2 separate regions of the Homo sapiens genome follow, and region 1 is linked to region 2. A link means that fine-mapping ties the variant in region 2 to the expression of a gene that starts in the linked region. Tissue or cell type: fibroblasts. Region 2 holds a variant in brackets; the other region holds the start of a gene. All regions are shown on one strand. Distances are between the middles of the regions. Region 1 holds the start of FMN2 (formin 2). Region 2 has its middle 61 kb from the start of FMN2.

Region 1 (4,392 bases), 61 kb after region 2:
TTACTCTAGATACATCAATATAGAGGCTGGTCACTTTTGCTGTTTCTCGTCTGTGTCTTGCTACCAGGATGTGGCCAGGCGTGAGGTAATATCTCTAATTATCTGTTAAATCTAGTTTTGCAACCACAGATATGATATTCTTACCTGATCAAATGGAATTAAGGTTAGGCCATGTTTCAGGCATCCTTAGGAATACTAAATAGCTATTAAATAACAAGAACCCTTTGGCAAAGCTTTGTAGTTTGCCTTTATGATATCCTTACCGGTCCCCCAAGAGTAAACTATGCAGTGTTTTATGTTATAAAAAAATTGTGGTCTAAATTTGCAGGTTCCAGTATTCTTTCTGCTGCTATGTGATCTTGGACAAATCTCTTAGCCTCTCTGAGCCTGAGCTCATGCTTCAATTATCCTTGAGTTAAGAGCACCTATGTGTATTTGATACCCACACTTGTGAATTTCAAATGAGCCTTTGCATGCAATAGAGATTTGTCAGCTGTGACCTGCTGCACAACTGTCACTGTGAAAAAAAATCATCAATTCTTTCCCTCCCTCCTTCTTTCCCTTCTTTTGTCTTCTGAACGTCTAGAATATAGCACAGAAGAAAACAATAAGGAAATCAGTAGTTCAGAATCAAAGACGTTCTGCTAAAGAAAGAGCAAAAATCAAGATTCAAAGTACCTCAGCACTCAAAGAAGCAGAAAATTCTAATAGCTGCAGGCAAATTGTGCCCTCTGAGGAGCCTAGATTCTAGAAAAAAGGAGAGAGCAGTCTTGTGAAAGAGGTGAAACAAAGGCTTTTCATGTACTCCGGAATTGCTTGGAGACTGGGATATAACCCTGGCAAAGTTATTAAAGTTGATTTCTCTAAAGCATTTACTCGAAAGGGCCACCTAAGGATAACTGGCTAACTGCCCTTAAATTACATTTATTTTTAAAAACATAGTTTGAAAAAGGTTAGTAACCAAAGACTTACAAGACCAACCTTTTTTAAAAAAGAATTTTAAAGGCTGGTTCATAATATGCAAAGGAAGACTACACATTTGCTTGCTACATTTAAGTTGCACAGTATAATATATAGCTTTTCTCCCTCCTCTGGGTTATTTTGAAAATATTAATAAGTTGGATGTCTATTCCATATTTTCAAAGTGGTTATCAATGACTTTTACTTAAATACTTGTAAAACTTATTAATGCCACTTTAATCTCAGTTTACTGCTTAAAGCTTTAGATATCCATATTTTTTTAAAAAAACTATTCTTAAAAAATAGGTAACTAAATTTAATAAATAATGAAAACAATGACAAAATATTCAATGAGGAAAAATGTTTATCCCCATATTGTGGCCAGAACGTTAAGAAACTTTTACAGGACGAAGTCTGCCTGGAAGGGTTTGCTTGGGAAAGTGGTAGTTTATAGCATAACATCTGATTTTGTGTGTTTGTGCCAAGGGTGTTTCCTTTCTGTCTTTTTCCTTTTTATAGGCAGCCACAATAGTGACATGTTTAATATTGATGAGTTTGACCTCCTGGGAGTTATCGTATATGCACCCTTTTTGAATACAAATGCTGTTTAATTTATATGGTAAACACATAGAATTTGGAGACTAGCATTTTAATCAACACTAATCTCAGTATTTTCTACTTCTCCTACCTCTCCTTCTGTCAACAACAACAAAAAAATCACAAACCAATTTTATAAATGACAGCTAATGTCCTCTCCTGGAGAAGCAGGGTCTGTGTGTGAAACATAAAAGCAGCACCATGTGTAGTAACCTCTCCTAAACCATATGCTCAAGCACATTAACAGTGTTCAATTAGATGATCAATTATTCAAGAAACAGAACAATCCATTCATTCAACAAATATTTATTGAACAGCCATGCAGAGGCAGACAGGGGGTTGTGTATGTGGCTGTGACCCGATGGCACCTCTAAACTGGAATTGGGCTTCAGTTTTTCTCCGTGTAAAAATTTCTTCTTTTTTATTTAACTTTTCTCTTGGCAGGTCCAGCAGCTTTGAAGATCAGAGTGCATCTTCCAGCTGACGATCTCTTCGGTCGGGGACAATGCATTCGATTCGCACGGTGGAGATTAAAGTCCCCGAGATAGAGGAAACGTTTTTCGCGCCCAGGTTCAGCGAGGAGCCGCGCGGGGGCAGAGGGGGCGGCGGCGGCGGGCGGGGAGCCAGGCCCGAGCTGCGTTCTGCGCAGCCATTGGTGGGCGCCGCGCTCTGCACTGAGCATGTTCGCGCCCCGCCGGCCCCTAGCCGCAGCCGCAGCCGCAGCGACGGCAGCCACGGGAGCCGCCGCGCATTATGCAAAGCGGCGGCAGATGCGAGCGGGGCCAGCCGGGCGCGCGTCGGCCTCCCCTCCCAGCGGCTCCCCCCGCCGCCGCCTGACTCTCCCGGGAGACTCCCTAGGCCCGGACCTGGGGCCGAGGAGGGCCGGGATGGCCTGAGTGCCCGCGGCGCGGCGGCGCAGCAGCGGGATTGCACCATGGGGAACCAGGATGGGAAGCTGAAGAGGAGCGCAGGTGATGCTTTGCACGAAGGCGGCGGTGGCGCCGAGGATGCGCTGGGGCCCAGGGATGTGGAAGCCACAAAGAAGGGGAGCGGGGGCAAGAAGGCGCTAGGCAAGCACGGCAAGGGGGGAGGGGGCGGCGGCGGCGGCGGGGAGTCGGGCAAGAAGAAGAGCAAGTCCGACTCCAGAGCCTCGGTGTTTTCCAACCTGCGGATCAGGAAGAATCTGTCCAAGGGGAAAGGCGCCGGCGGCTCCCGCGAAGATGTACTGGATTCCCAGGCCCTGCAGACCGGGGAGCTGGACAGCGCTCACTCCCTGCTCACCAAGACTCCAGACCTCAGCCTCTCGGCGGACGAGGCCGGCCTGTCGGATACCGAGTGTGCGGACCCTTTTGAGGTGACCGGTCCAGGGGGTCCTGGGCCTGCCGAGGCTAGGGTCGGGGGCCGGCCGATCGCCGAGGATGTGGAAACTGCAGCAGGGGCGCAGGATGGACAAAGGACCAGCTCGGGCTCGGACACGGACATCTATAGCTTCCATTCGGCTACGGAGCAAGAGGATTTGCTTTCAGACATCCAGCAGGCGATCCGCCTGCAGCAGCAGCAGCAGCAGCAGCTCCAGCTCCAGCTCCAGCAACAGCAGCAGCAGCAGCAGCTCCAGGGCGCCGAGGAGCCTGCAGCGCCCCCCACTGCCGTCTCCCCTCAGCCCGGGGCCTTCCTGGGCCTGGACCGGTTCCTGCTGGGGCCGAGCGGCGGGGCTGGGGAGGCCCCGGGCAGTCCGGACACCGAGCAGGCGCTGTCCGCGCTCTCCGACCTGCCCGAGAGCCTGGCCGCCGAGCCCCGGGAGCCCCAGCAACCGCCGTCCCCCGGCGGCCTCCCGGTCTCCGAGGCGCCCAGTCTCCCGGCAGCGCAACCCGCGGCCAAAGACTCGCCCTCCTCCACGGCTTTCCCATTTCCCGAGGCCGGGCCGGGGGAGGAAGCGGCCGGAGCCCCCGTGCGAGGGGCTGGGGACACGGATGAGGAGGGTGAGGAGGATGCTTTTGAGGATGCGCCCCGGGGCTCTCCGGGGGAGGAGTGGGCCCCGGAGGTGGGAGAGGACGCCCCGCAGAGGCTGGGGGAAGAGCCGGAGGAGGAGGCGCAAGGACCTGACGCCCCCGCGGCCGCTTCCCTGCCCGGCAGCCCCGCGCCTAGCCAGCGCTGTTTCAAGCCCTACCCGCTCATCACCCCCTGCTACATCAAGACCACCACCCGGCAGCTCAGCTCGCCCAATCACTCCCCGTCTCAGTCCCCTAATCAGAGCCCCAGGATCAAGAGGCGGCCGGAACCCTCCCTGAGCCGAGGGTCCAGAACTGCCCTGGCCTCCGTAGCCGCCCCGGCCAAGAAGCACCGGGCCGACGGCGGCCTTGCGGCCGGCCTGAGCCGCTCGGCTGACTGGACGGAGGAGCTAGGCGCCCGCACGCCCCGGGTGGGAGGCTCCGCGCACCTGCTGGAGCGCGGGGTGGCGAGTGACAGCGGCGGTGGGGTGTCCCCAGCACTGGCCGCCAAGGCGTCTGGGGCCCCCGCGGCTGCGGATGGCTTCCAGAACGTGTTCACAGGTGAGCGCGCCCTGCTGCTGGCCTCCGGGTCTCAAGTCGCCTGTCAGTCAGGGCCTTCCCCTGCCACCCGCCCTCCCTGGGCTCTGGAAGGCGGTGACCTGGTAGTGGCACATCTCTTCTCCGTAGGGAATCCTTTTCCGCCCAGCGAGCTCACCCCCCACGGTGAAATGACTTGGACATACTTGTTGGTTTTCTGTGTTCTTACAAGATCTTAAAGGGAACAACTTAGTTGTGTCTGTCCTAAGTTGCTCTGCCCATTTCACCAAAATACCTGCTATTCACAAAG
Region 2 (4,392 bases):
TCTAAATTCTGTATTTAAACATTGAAAAAAGCTCAGATGACTTGAATCTCTAGGTTTTACAAATCTTTTATAATTTTTAAGAAAACCAGAGTTTTACCTAAACTAAGCAGAGATTTCCACAAGTATATTAATTATTCAATCAAAAAAAAATCAGTGTACCAGCCCTTACAAGCTAAAACCCACTTCTATCTAAAAATGACCAGTCATTGGAATTCTCTCGGAGAATGGCAAGAAACTGAAGCAAAATAAATAATAAAAGCAATAAAAATTCAAGCACTTTGGCAAAATAGATAATTCACAAATATTTTACCCTTCTAGAGTTCTGTTTTAAATTTCATATAAAGTATTCCTTTTGAAGAAATTATATTTGAAATATCAATTCTATTTCAACAATTTTCATTACAAAAATAATTTTTGCATAATGCAGTTATTTTTCTATTCTATCAAATGGTCCAAAATACCACCACAATGTTTATGTATTTACAATGAATATTTTTTAACATGCTATTTTCTACAATGAATGATTCTCCCACTCTTACACTCATTGTTTGACGTGGAACAAGATGAGCAGAGAGACAAGGGGAGCCATCCTGAAACTGGGCTATTCCACAGACCTGCTCCTTTGAGTCTTAATATCCCAAATACACTGCCAGTATCATCCAAACTTCTAAAACAGAAAATAACCCAAGAGTTAGCAAACAGCAGGAAATTTCCCTTTTGTGATTTAGTAAGGAAAATTTTCCACTTATATTAGCACCTGCCTGAGTTACAATACTAAATACTGCACTTTTAGTTCAATGGTTCTAATCAGCAAAAGCTGTTCAAGAGCCATGAACTTTATGTATTTATTTTTTTTGAGACTGAGTCTCACTCTGTTTTCCAGGCTGGAGTGCAAAGGCACAATCACGGCTCACTGCAACCTCACTCTCCTGAGGCCTGGGTGACCCTCCTACCTCAGCCTTCCAAGTAGCTGTTTGTTGTTAGATTAGATTTCTGGTGGCTGAGTCCACAGATGGTCACAATGTGTGGCTATGGCTATGCGTTATAGCATAGAAGGAATAGCCAGATGGTTCTAATGCCTAAAGCTTCCTTTTTTGCTTGTCCCTTTTATAAAGCTTGGTTCTTCAACCTCACTGTCAATTTTGTAAGCTAAGAGTAACTTTCCGACAAGTTTATTTACACCTAAGTTATCTAAAGTCATTTTTTGTTGTTTTCAATTGAGGAGTTTAAGTCATACAGAAAGTGTGAATAAGGCCTGGATTGTTGGCAATAGCATCTCAGGAGAATGTGGGGATTCTGAGACTTATTATCTAAGTAATTGGAGGTTGAAGGCAGTAAAAACCAGGCATGAGACCCTGCAGATTTACAGTACACAAGGTGGCAAAATAGCAAATCAAATTAGAGATTTTTTGGCACTTAAAATAGTATGCTCTTTAAAGACAATGTTTTAGAGTGTCATGGTGAATTTTCCAAAGAACAGGAAGACGGGTAAAAAGTCAAGGCCTAGAGTTTGTCTAAATAAGTGTAAGCAAAGGGAACAGCGAGCTCAAATCCTTAAATTCTCTTCTTGAGACAGACAAAAGTTTAGCATTTTTCTATCATGGTCCTAACAGTATCTCCTATGCCCCAGGGTAATTAAAAATTGAATTCAAATTTAGATCCAGGTGGCCCCTAATTGAATTTATAGATCCTCCTGGTAACTTAGGTTAAACATATGATCTGGATTAAAAAAAAAAAAAAAGGAAAATAATTCCAAGAATGTGAACTTACTGGAATATGCAAAGGACTCCAAGAACCTCAGCATTTCAAACACCCCCTAAACTTCTCTGTGTATTCAAAACCGGCTCCCACACATACCACACGTATCTGATGAAATTATTTATCTTTTCATTGAAGCTACAATTCCTTCCTTACATGAGTGAGCCGACTTTCAAACAAGAACCATATTAGCATTCCTACTTCATTGCCGGTAATATACAAACGGGGTTTGAAAAGCAAGAAGCAACTACTTTAAATATCATTGAAATACAGGTTGGGCACCGTGGCTCACACCTCTAATCCCAGCACTTTGGGAGTTCAAGGCGGGCCGAGCACTTGAGGCCAGGAGATGGAGACGAGGCTGGCCAACATGGAGAAACCCCGTCTCTACAGAAAATACAAAAATTAGCCGGGTGTGGTGGTGCACGTCTGTAGTCCCAGGTACTAGTGAGGCTGAGGCACAAGAATCGATTGAGCCCAGGGGGAAGGAGGTCGCAGTGAGCAGAGATCACTCTACTGCACTCCAGCCTAAGCGATACAGCGAGACTCTATCTCAAAAAAAAAAAAAAAAAAAAAAAAAATATATATATATATATACATATATATATATATATATATGCCAGAGGGAGATAAATACCATGAAAATACAGGGAACAATATTTCAGAAAAATTTCAGGGAGTCCAGTGGCCTGGCACCTGCCGGGATATCCCTCCATTTCTTCCGCTACTCCTAACAGCAAGTTCTAACACCAAGTGAGTCCCTTCTGCTTTTGGAGGCAGTGTTTGCTACATTTGAGTACACTGCCATGAATCATTTACCCATGTCTC[CG/C]AGAGGCTTCCAGCTTTAAGCACGACCCTGGGCAAAAGAATCTTTTCCAGATGAGTCAGGAAATAGTATTGGTCATTTTGCTTCCTGACCTTTATGATCTAGCATATCCAATCATGCTCAAAGAATCTGTAATGGGTCAGAAGACTCAATGGAATCCATGGCATTCCTGGATAAATAATAATAATAATAATAATAAAATAAATAAAAAAATTCACAGCGAAGGCATCATAGTTTAAGGCAAAAGTATGCCTTTTTCTGCTATTGTCCTTTCACTAAGTGGCTCTTAGCTTTCTACTACGCCTTGGTGAATAATAAACATCTAACTGTAAAGCCATAATTGAGCATACAACTTAAAGAGCACATTATAAACTAGTGCTATCATACCACACAGCTTTGAAATTTGGAATACTCCATGGTAATCCATCATCAGGTCAAAGTGTTATATGTCAAACCAGGCATTTGATAATTCTCATGTCGTAAACAAGTTCTTTGAACGAGTGACTCACAATCCCTTATGCCTATTCCTGATACTCTCTCACTACTCTCTCAAACTACCTATGCCCTCATCATTGCTCCCTACTAAAAAATACTAAGGAGAAAATAATACAGTAAGATCCTACAAAATATACATGCACCAGCCTGAAGTTCCATGCATACAGTAGGAACTCAATAAAGATTAATTGACTTGAATTGAATAAAACTGTTTGCAATAACTTTATAATTTCATAAGCTCCATTTTCTCTGATAGAGCATTATCTTAGTTTGTTTTGTGCTATTATAACAGAATACCTGAAACTGGGTAATTTATAAAGGACAAAAATTTATTCCCTCACAGTTCTGGAGTCTGAGGTGTCCACGATCAAGATGCCAGTAGATTAGGTCTCTGGTTCCAAGATTGTGTTCCCTTGCTACTCTCTAGAGTGAAGGAATATTGTGTCTTCACATTGTCGAAGAACAGAAGAGAGGGAAGCCACTCCTATAAGTTTTTTCTATAGCTGCATTAATTCATTCATTAAAATGGAGTCCTCATGATCTAAACACCTCCCATTAGGTCCCACCTCCCAACACTGTTGCACTAGGGATTAAGTTTCAACGTGAGTTTTGGAGGTGAAAAAAACATTCAAACCACCACAAACATATAGAAGAAAAACTCTTTCAGAGGGCAGAGTTTTGAAAACACCCCTCATCCATATAGCCTCAGAGATGAGTCTGAATAGATTTATGAAGACTGATTAATGGTTTGGCTAGAAAGAAGAAAATTGGAGGTTGGTGATGAAAAGTTTCGGAGAACAGATATTTGAAAGGACTCTCAGAATGAGCACAGATATCAGCATATCAGCTACCTAGTAGGAGGCTTATTGTATTGAATTCCACTCACAATGAAAGAAGAGCAATTTGTTCTTGCTTAATATCCTTATCCTGGGATTGATTATCTTTATTTGTCTCTCTCTCCATGTTATCATTCATGGATTTACTAATATCACAGGTCATCTATGTTTTCCAGAAACACTGATTGCTATCAAGAAAAATTGAGTAATAGATGGGCTCCCCAGGGGTTCACTAGAGCTATCACATACCATGTCATCATCCTGAACAGAGACTCTTATGAAAAGTTGGAGAAGTTATTTGAGGACTCAGTTAAAGATCAACTAACAACACCTTGCAAAGTTGAGATGTCCTGTATAATGCTGCATATATCTTGAATAAATGACCAATATATGATATTCCTCCAAATGGGTCTAAAATTAAGTGGTACTTCTTGGTCAGAATACATGGATCTAAAACCCAAGAGATAAATTTCACAA

Evidence for each region.
Region 1: FMN2 starts here. The variant in region 2 is fine-mapped to the expression of FMN2 in fibroblasts (GTEx, PIP above 0.99).

The regions. Positions count from the first base shown.
Region 1 is chr1:240,089,619-240,094,010 of GRCh38, forward strand. FMN2 (formin 2) reads left to right here and starts at 2,265. Exons shown (of 18, transcript NM_020066.5): 1 at 2,265-4,106. The coding sequence starts at 2,492.
Region 2 is chr1:240,028,599-240,032,990 of GRCh38, forward strand. No RefSeq gene overlaps it. Among named protein-coding and RNA genes, the nearest start is that of FMN2, 61 kb to the right of the region's middle. The variant CG/C (reference allele first, on the strand shown) is at 2,587.